Linked DNA regions of Homo sapiens: region 1 is linked to region 2. Evidence: fine-mapped expression QTL. A gene starts in region 2. The other region holds a variant in brackets. All regions are shown on one strand. Distances are from middle to middle.

What was found. PIP is the estimated chance that this variant, and not a neighbour inherited with it, causes the effect. A credible set is the group of variants that fine-mapping cannot tell apart.
Region 1: its variant is the best candidate, but not a certain one, in a credible set for the expression of CLEC5A in whole blood (TOPMed, PIP 0.55).

Annotation. Positions count from the first base shown.
Region 1 is chr7:141,870,790-141,875,197 of GRCh38, forward strand. No RefSeq gene overlaps it. Among named protein-coding and RNA genes, the nearest start is that of PRSS37, 32 kb to the left of the region's middle. The variant A/G (reference allele first, on the strand shown) is at 2,269.
Region 2 is chr7:141,944,494-141,948,901 of GRCh38, forward strand. CLEC5A (C-type lectin domain containing 5A) reads right to left here and starts at 2,481. Exons shown (of 7, transcript NM_013252.3): 1 at 2,314-2,481; 2 at 1,721-1,819; 3 at 848-907. The coding sequence starts at 1,799. RefSeq lists an enhancer at 963-2,162.

The DNA of each region.
Region 1 (4,408 bases), 74 kb before region 2:
TTCTGGGAAAACTGTCTAGCCATATGTGGAAAGCTGAAACTAGATCTCTTCCTTACACCATATAAAAAAATTAACTCAAGATGGATTAAATACTTAAGTGTAAGACCTAATAGCATAAAAACCCTAGAAGAAAACCCAGGCAATGCCATTCAGGACACAGGCATGGGCAAGGACTTCATGACTAAAACACCAAAAGCAATGGCAACAAAAGCCAAAATAGACAAATAGGATCTAATTAAATTAAAGAGCTTCTGCACAGCAAAAAAAAAACTATCATCAGAGTAAACAGGCAACCTACAGAATGGGAGAAAATCTTTGCAATCTACCCATCCGACAAAGGGCTAATATCCAGAATCTACAAAGAATTCAAACAAATTTACAAGAAAAAAACAACCCCATCAAAAAGTGGGCAAAGGATATGAACAGACACGTCTCAAAAGAAGACATTTATGCAGCCAACAGACATATGAAAAAATGCTCATCATCACTGGTCATCAGAGAAATGCAAATCAAACCCACAATGAGATACCATCTCATGCCAGTTAGAATGGCGATCATTAATAAGTCAGGAAACAACAGATGCTGGAGAGGATGTGGAGAAATAGGAACGCTTTTACACTGTTGGTGGGAGTGTAAATTAGTTCAACCATTGTGGAAGACAGTGTGGTGATTCCTCAAGGATCTAGAACTAGAAATACCATTTGACCCAGCGATCCCATTACTGGGTATATACCCAAAGGATTATAAATCATTCTACTATAAAGACACACGCACACGTATGTTTCTTGCAGCACTGTTCGCAATAGCAAAGACGGAACCAATCCAAATGTCCATCAATGATAGATTGGATTAAGAAAATGTGGCACATATACACCATGGAATACTATGCAGCCATAAAGAGGATGAGTTCATGTCCTTTGCAGGGACATAGATGAAGCGGGAAACCATCATTCTAAGCAAACTATCACAAGGACAGAAAACCAAAGACCGCATGTTCTCACTCATAGGTGGGAATTGAACAATGAGAACACATGGACACAGGGCAGGGAACATCACACATTGGGGCCTGTAGGAGGGTGGGGGGCTGGGGGAGTTATAGCATTAGGAGAAATACCTAATGTGTGTAAATGATGAGTTGATGGGTGCAGCAAACCAACATGGCACATGTATACCTATGCAACAAACCTGCACGTTGTGCACATGTACCCTAGAACTTAAAGTATAATAAAAGAAAAAGAAAAAATTTCACAATAAAAAAATGCTTTTCAAAACAAAAGGATGGAGCATGTCAAAGGGATACAGGACCCAACCTGAGTCTCAGTCTTAGTCCCTGTGGGATGCTATAATGGAATACCGTAGACTGCATGGCTGATACAAAATAGAAATTTACTTCTCACAGCACTTGAGGATGAGAAATTCAAGATTAAAGCACTAGCATATGTGGTGTCTGGTGGTGGTATAAGGGGCAAGAGAGGTCACTGGGGTATTTTTAATAGGGTCACTAATCACATTTATAAGGGCTCCCTCTTCATGACCTAATCACCTTCCAAAAGTCCAACTCTGAATACCATCATCTTGGAGATTGTGTTTCAAGAATTTGGGGGGAACACAAATATTCAGTCTATAGCAGCTCCCAATGGCCAAAGCTAGAATAATTTAGCATATTAAATGATGTAGAATGAATTATAACTTATAGTATAAAATATTAATATTTTATAAATATATAATGTAAATGAATGATTGAATAAAGAAATAATTTAAGAAATTACTTTTATTTTTCAGAACTGCTTTGGCTATTCTCTAACCACTTTCCATATAAATATTGAAATCGGTCTGTAGATATCCACAAAAAACTTGCTGACATTTTGATTAGGAATGTATTGAAACCTTAGATCAAATTGTCTTAAAGCCTCAAGGAATAGGATTCTTTCAATTCATGTGTAATTCTAAATGTTTACCCGCATGGTTGAATGGCAATCCTTTGGTGGTAGGAAGCCAATCCCTAATTTTTTCTGTCTCCCATCCATGTTCTCAAGTCTTATTTTTAATTTAGGTATATTTGTCTCTTCTCCATGGCATCAGGCTTCCTCATAAGTCTTCCATCAGTGTGTGCCAGTGACTTTATGCTTAAATCTTATATCTTTCTATTGCCACGACAGCAGTGTACAAAAGTATCTAACAGGCTTTACAACTCCTCAGAAGCCATGTACATTTATCAGATCCTTATTTTAGAATCGTCATCCATTTTAGTTCCTATAGCTTCATTCC[A/G]AAGAGTTAACATTATTTTTGAATACCATGCCTGATGTCATCTTTTCCGCTCAGGTGCACTTTCAGTGGTTAGCAACTCTGAGCTTATTATAGACTCTGCATCAGAGGAGTCTACCCAAACTTGGAGTCTCCCTATTAAAAAAAAACTGCCTAAACAGTTACTTTTATACTCACATACTCATTTTTATATGTAAATATTTATATAATTTTCTATTAATAACCCTTGGACTCCAAACTAAAAGGAAACAGCTGAAACCAAAGGGACACAAGAAAGCATCTACATAGCTCACGTATAGTAAATCTACCTTCTGTACTATCCTCCCTTAGAAAATTATTTCTAGACTTTTCATTGTTCATTTTCTGTTTAGGTCATAATCTTCTATGCACCATGTCAAATGATCTTATATTAGCTAACAAGTATGCAGAAGTTACCAACTTTTGAGATCACAACATGGGCCTACATAAACAGTATATGTAGGTGCAACAGTAAGTAATCATAACATAGAATATGTTTCGATTACATGTATCTTTCAAGTGTGTATTTGTGCTATTGCAGTGAATATAAACAGAAGTTTATGTAAAAATAATGTTGAATTTGTGGTAGTTTTTGCCAGGAAAATGTTTTTAATTGTCCTTTCATCATTGACTGTAATGTTTTTGCTATATTTATATTTTTAATTTAAATATTTAAATTATTTAAAATCATAATCATATAGGCATAGTTTAAAAAATTTAAAGTAATTGTAAGTGATTGATATAGGAAAATGGCAGATTGTTTCTCTTTCCCATTTTACTCATGGTACTACTCTTCAGAGTCAAAAACTTTTTTTGGTACATATTTAGTAATAATATGCTTATATAAATATTTCATAATTTATGAAATTTATTCTTTCTGTAATTAATAAGTTACTTATTAATTTTTAAATGCAGTTCCTTTCCCCCATCCCCAAATAGTTCTACATACATCTCAAACCTAAACCTAACAAAGCTCTGGCTTTGTGTTCTGTAGGCCTGGTATAGAGCTCTTGTGCAGGGACATCCATTCACAGTTTTCATGTGATAGCTTTCGTTTTACCAACTTTTCTATCTTCTTCTTTTTTGGTTTGCTTCCAAGTTTTGATGGAGCAGAGCTTCTAGCATCTTTTAATGATGCTACTTTTAGAATCCTCTTTTTATCTTAGGTCTGCTACTGATTATAATACGTCATGGGGTATCTCATTTGGATTGAATCTGATACCTCATATCTTACACCTAGATATTTACATCTTTCTCTAGGTTTGGAAAGTTTCCTGCTATTATTTCTTAAATACTATTTATACCCCTTTCGCTTTCTCTGTCTTCTTTTGAATCCTGATGACCCATACTTTTGGTCTTTTGATATTATCCCATAAGCCTTTAAAATTTATTTTCATTCTGTTTTTTACTCTTACTGTATATTGTTAAATACTTTGAGTTCACACGTATTTCTTCTGTTTGATCAATTCTGCTGTTGATGCTCTGTATTGGGATTTTAAATTTAGTTTATTGTATATTTCAGCTCCAGGATTTCTTTTTTAATTTCCATTTCTCTGTTAAGTTTCTCACTAATTTCTGTATTATTTTTCTGTATTTTCTTGAGATTCTCTGAGCTTCGTTAAAATAGGAACTTTAAATTCTTTGTTAGGCTGTTCTTCCATCTCCATCTCTTTAGGGTCAGTCAGTGGCACCTTATTTTGTTCAATGGCACCTTATTTTGCCTGCTTAGTGATGTCATGATTCTCTGATTTTTCTTAACCTTGTGGCTGTGTGTCGATGTTTGTACAATGAAATAGGTACTTAATGCAGTCTTCACAGTCTGCCTTTGTTTGGCAGTGTTCTTCAACAGTAAGCTGGTTGAGAAACTCGGGGCAAGTTTGCTGGTAAAGTCCCTGTGCTTGTGATTGCTTCATCTATTGTATCACTACGGGGTGCTCTAAGGCCAGGCTGCCACAGAAGGAATCCCATGGCCACTGACATTGATGTAGCCTTGGCTCTCACTCAAATCATATGGCCATTGAGATTTGTAGCACTGAGGCCTAATCAAGACCTGTGGCTTTTATGGCCTACCTATTCTTAGGATTGCCTTGGATACTCAGGATCTTTTTTTTGGTTCCCTGTGAAT
Region 2 (4,408 bases):
GCCAAGGGGATATTATCAGACAAGGAAGCAGGTGAACTTTAGGGAGATTTTCTATAAGCAGGGAAGGGTCCATTCATTTCTAGAAATCCATATAGGGGCCTCATTTCCCTGGGAACACTGGCTGTCTGAGCAGGCAGCCGCAGTGGCTTCAGAGGCTGGTCAAACATCTAATTGGGCTGCCAGTTATTTGTCCATTGTGGTTGAAGACCACTTTACTCTGACATCAAATTAGTTACTTACATTTATCTTAATGAAACAAATTGGCATTCACTTTTTATTTCAGTACCCCGTTTATAGACTCTAAGATGTAATAGCCTGGTTTTCATCAGAAACTACTTTGAGATTATAACTTAAGGACTCAATACATATTTTATGAGTATTTTCTCCATACAGCTCACTGTATTGGGTTGCCTCTGTTGATACTAAGATAAATGAGAAACGGTCTTTCTCCTAACGATGTCAGTAGTAATAGGTGTCTTAAGAGGAAGTGAGAGGATGTTGTTGGGAAAGGCTTCAGAAGGAAGCTGGTTTAATCGGGAGAGGAGAACCATGCCCCACTCATCTCTCTATCTCCCATAGCTACTGGCTATTAAGCACTTTCACATTCTATTACAATGATTAGATATAAATCATCCCCATATCCAGGAGAAAAACTAAGGATCAGAAATTTCCCTCAGTCTGCTCTTGGTTTTCTCATATGTAAAAGAAAGGGAATTAATTAGAAGATCTTTATGGACCCTTTGTACAAAAGAATTTCTTGGGAAAGGAGGCTGTGTGGAAGGTCTCTAGGAATTCAGCATAGAAGTAGCAGGAGGATGGGGAGAAGATTTACCACCATGCAGATTACCTGTTCCATAGCTCCTGGTGGTGGTGAAACCATCGTTACTTTTGTTAAAAATCTGTGGGACTGAAAAGAAAATCAGCTGTTGGCTCAGCCCCAAATGTGACTGCATGATGAATATGACAAACAAGTATCAGCACAGGGGCTGCTAGGGTACTGTGACTATTAGTGGGAAATACTGAACTCTCTGACTCAGTGAAGATGCATAAATGTGGTTTTGTGAATACGTTCCCTTATTCATATTTCTGTCCTGCTGTCTGACATGATAGGAATTGCACCTTCAGATTGCATCATGAGGAAGACACCTCTTAGCTAACTACTGCCTCCCACTCACGTTTCCTTCCTCATTTATTTTCCCTACTGGCTTCTGGGGCTAGAGAAGATTCTAGTTTCTGATTGCAGTAAAATCCTTTCATAGGAGGCTTCTTTAACTAGGCATTTGGATGAATTAATTTATATGTATACAAAGAGAAATTTCTTTCTCAGTTAAATCCTGTTACATTATACTTCAGCTCTTACCATGGCCTTGTCATTGGGTTGAACTGGAGCTGTATTTTAGATTTTGCCAACAATAACAAGCGCTGCCAAGTACTTCAGCTGAGATCACCCAAATAATACTCTACTAGCAAAAGCTTTGCGTGGCGTTCTAACCATCAGAAACTGGTAAGTTCTATATCTCCAAGGTAGACCAAGGAGCCTGGGCCACTGTGTGTGCTGGGGAGTGAGAAAGGCATTGCCAATTGACCTCAGGTTGGGTCAGTTAGTCTCAGGTGGAAAGACTTGGATATGTAACCTTTACACACAACCATGCATTCTGAGAGAAGAGTCAATGAGCAAGACAACATGAAGTCTGGGGCAAGAGGTTGCTCAAATACTCACAATAAAGTAGAAATAAGGTCATTCCAACAACTTTAAGCACTACCACAATAAGCCCAGAGATGATCATGTGCCAGTTCATGATGAAGGAGCTGCAGGGGCCTGTGAAGATTAGAGCACAGCAGCATCAGAATTCGGGTACAAGGCTGCTTTTCACTAGGACATATCCCAGCCTCTCGCTCAGAGTACCCAAAGCAAGGCAGGCTTGGAAGACAGGCATGACATTGACAGGTACCAGGAGGTGACCCAGCGTGGGCCGCGAACACAGAAAGAATCATGTATTGATTGGAGCCTTGGAACTTGGCATACTGCCTCTCCTTCACTCATTCCCTACTCCAGGCCTCAGCCTTGCCCTATTTGTGGCCTCCTAAATTCTGTCTAATAATTAAACCCTCTCCTGTATTTTGAGAACCCTTATCCTTGAAATGACCCTTGTTCCCAAGGACCTTAGTCTGTAGCCTTCACCATACTGACTTAAGTTGTCAGAAGCCTCAGTCTTCCAAATACCAGGGGTAGGTGACAGACAGGACAGGCATCCCTGAAGGTCTTGGCATTGGTCAACAGTCCATGCAGCCAAGACAGACAGACAGACTCACCTCTTTCTCCCTGGAAGGCTAGGCTTGCTTGCAGATGGGGGTCTTCCTGGTGGCCTAATGCTTGGTGTGGCAGGCAGGGGCCCCGTCTCCTGAGAATATGCTCCTTTTGCCCAAGCAACGTTCTTCCTTCTTCACAGTCTCTGCCTTGGTAGCATCCCCAAGAAATACCTCTTCCTGTTCAGTGGGGTTCTTGGCAAAGGGAGCAGGCGGGGCAAAGAAGGGAAGAGACTCTCTAGCCCTAGTGGTGGCAAGAGCAGACTTCCTGCCAGGAGAGTTCTAATGCAGAGGAACATTTTAAGGACAATTTGGAAAACAAAATACCTCAACACAGATTCACCCTTCCTCTGTGTCTAAATCTCCTTGAAATACAGTGGGAAGAGAAATGTAGTAAAATTTTAACAAACATTGAATCTGGATAAAAGGTAGCTGGAAGTTATTTGTACTTTCCTTACAACATTTCTGCAAGTCTGAAATTATGTCAAGTTAAAAATGTTAAGAAATCCAGTTGAAGACACTAATATGAATGAGCAGGTTCTTGCTGTTCCATTTGCTCCATTTGCTGGAGCTCTGCTCATTCCCCTTTATCATGGACTCCTCTCTGGCACCACCTGCTCACCTTCCAGACCTCATGGTGGCTCTTCAGTGTTTCTTGAACATGGCACTCTGCTGGATACAGCAGTGGGCTGGGGTGAACAATACTCAAGTCCTATTGTCAAGGAGTTTTTAATTTCGTGTTAAATTTGAAAATTTGCTTTTATTTTCCCTACTATGAAAACTACTGTGCTCATGACAAAAAAATGGCTGGAAAATATTAACAAGGAAAATTGAGAAAACAAAACCATTTATAACCTTGTACATTTAGTTATAGTCATTGCTAGCACCTCAGGGTGTATCCTTTCGAGATGAGTAGGTAGATAGAAAGATAGATGGATAGATAGATAGATAGACAGAAAAACACTGGTTCACAAAGAACAATGGGAACATATTGTACATATTGTTTTGCAATCTATCTGCTCAAGATTAAGCTAACACTATGTTATATATATCTTTTCATGTCAAAATATAGATTTTGATAATGTATTATTTAATATGTGCATAGCATTCAGGTGTAAAACTATATGATTTATTTATTCAGGTGTAAAAGTATATTATTTCTTTAACAATTGCATAACCACAAATCTTCTAGTAAAGTGTGGTGGACAAGAACAAAGTTTTAAAAATCAGTCCTGCTTTTGATTCCTGGAGCTGACCTTCACTAGCTGAACATCCTTGATTAAGTTACTGAGTCTCTTTACCTTCCATTTCTTTATCTATAAATAGGAGTAATTATAGTAAATACCACATAGGATTGTTCCGAGAAATGAGCAAGATAATGCTTGTAATTTCAATAGCGTGATACTCAGCATCTTAAACATAAATCCTTAGTATTCTAACTATTTTCTAAAACTCTTCTAACTATCTTCCCAATGCACAGTGAACAGCTAAGTGCATGCATCCTTTTACATGTCCTTAATAACTTTCTTGGGCTAAGTTATCAGAAATATAAATGCTGGATCAAAAGACATGTACATTTGGAGGGCTTTGGAACATTAAAGTTGTGTTTTGTTCTACTTGGATAGTCCTCTGTGTTTTTGAAAAATCTCATTGAACCTGATTTATCTGGTCACAAGGTAATTACTTCTAGACCCTAGATTGCTGTCCAGAAGGATCCATATATTTATTGGACAATAAATATGGCCAATTATGCCAGCTATGTTAGGAAGTATGGGAATCAGGAGACTTGGTTATTATTATTTAGAAAGTTTTTAACAGAGACTTTCTGAATAACTTAATAAAATCTATACACTTGGATAGCAAGTGAATCTTTTATAACAAAGAGGTATAAGAGATCTTTCAAATATCATCAAAAGAGAAGAAAATGTCATAGTATAAAAGGATGTCCACAGAAGTTTTGGGGGTAGTACTCTGACTGATGCATTGTGGGACACCTCTGCTCTGCTAGAAAATCTAAAGAAAAATCTAAATTCTTGTTCAAGGCTTCGCACTGCAATGCTTCTCTTAAACTCGACATTATCAGAAACCTTGCTAAAAAAAA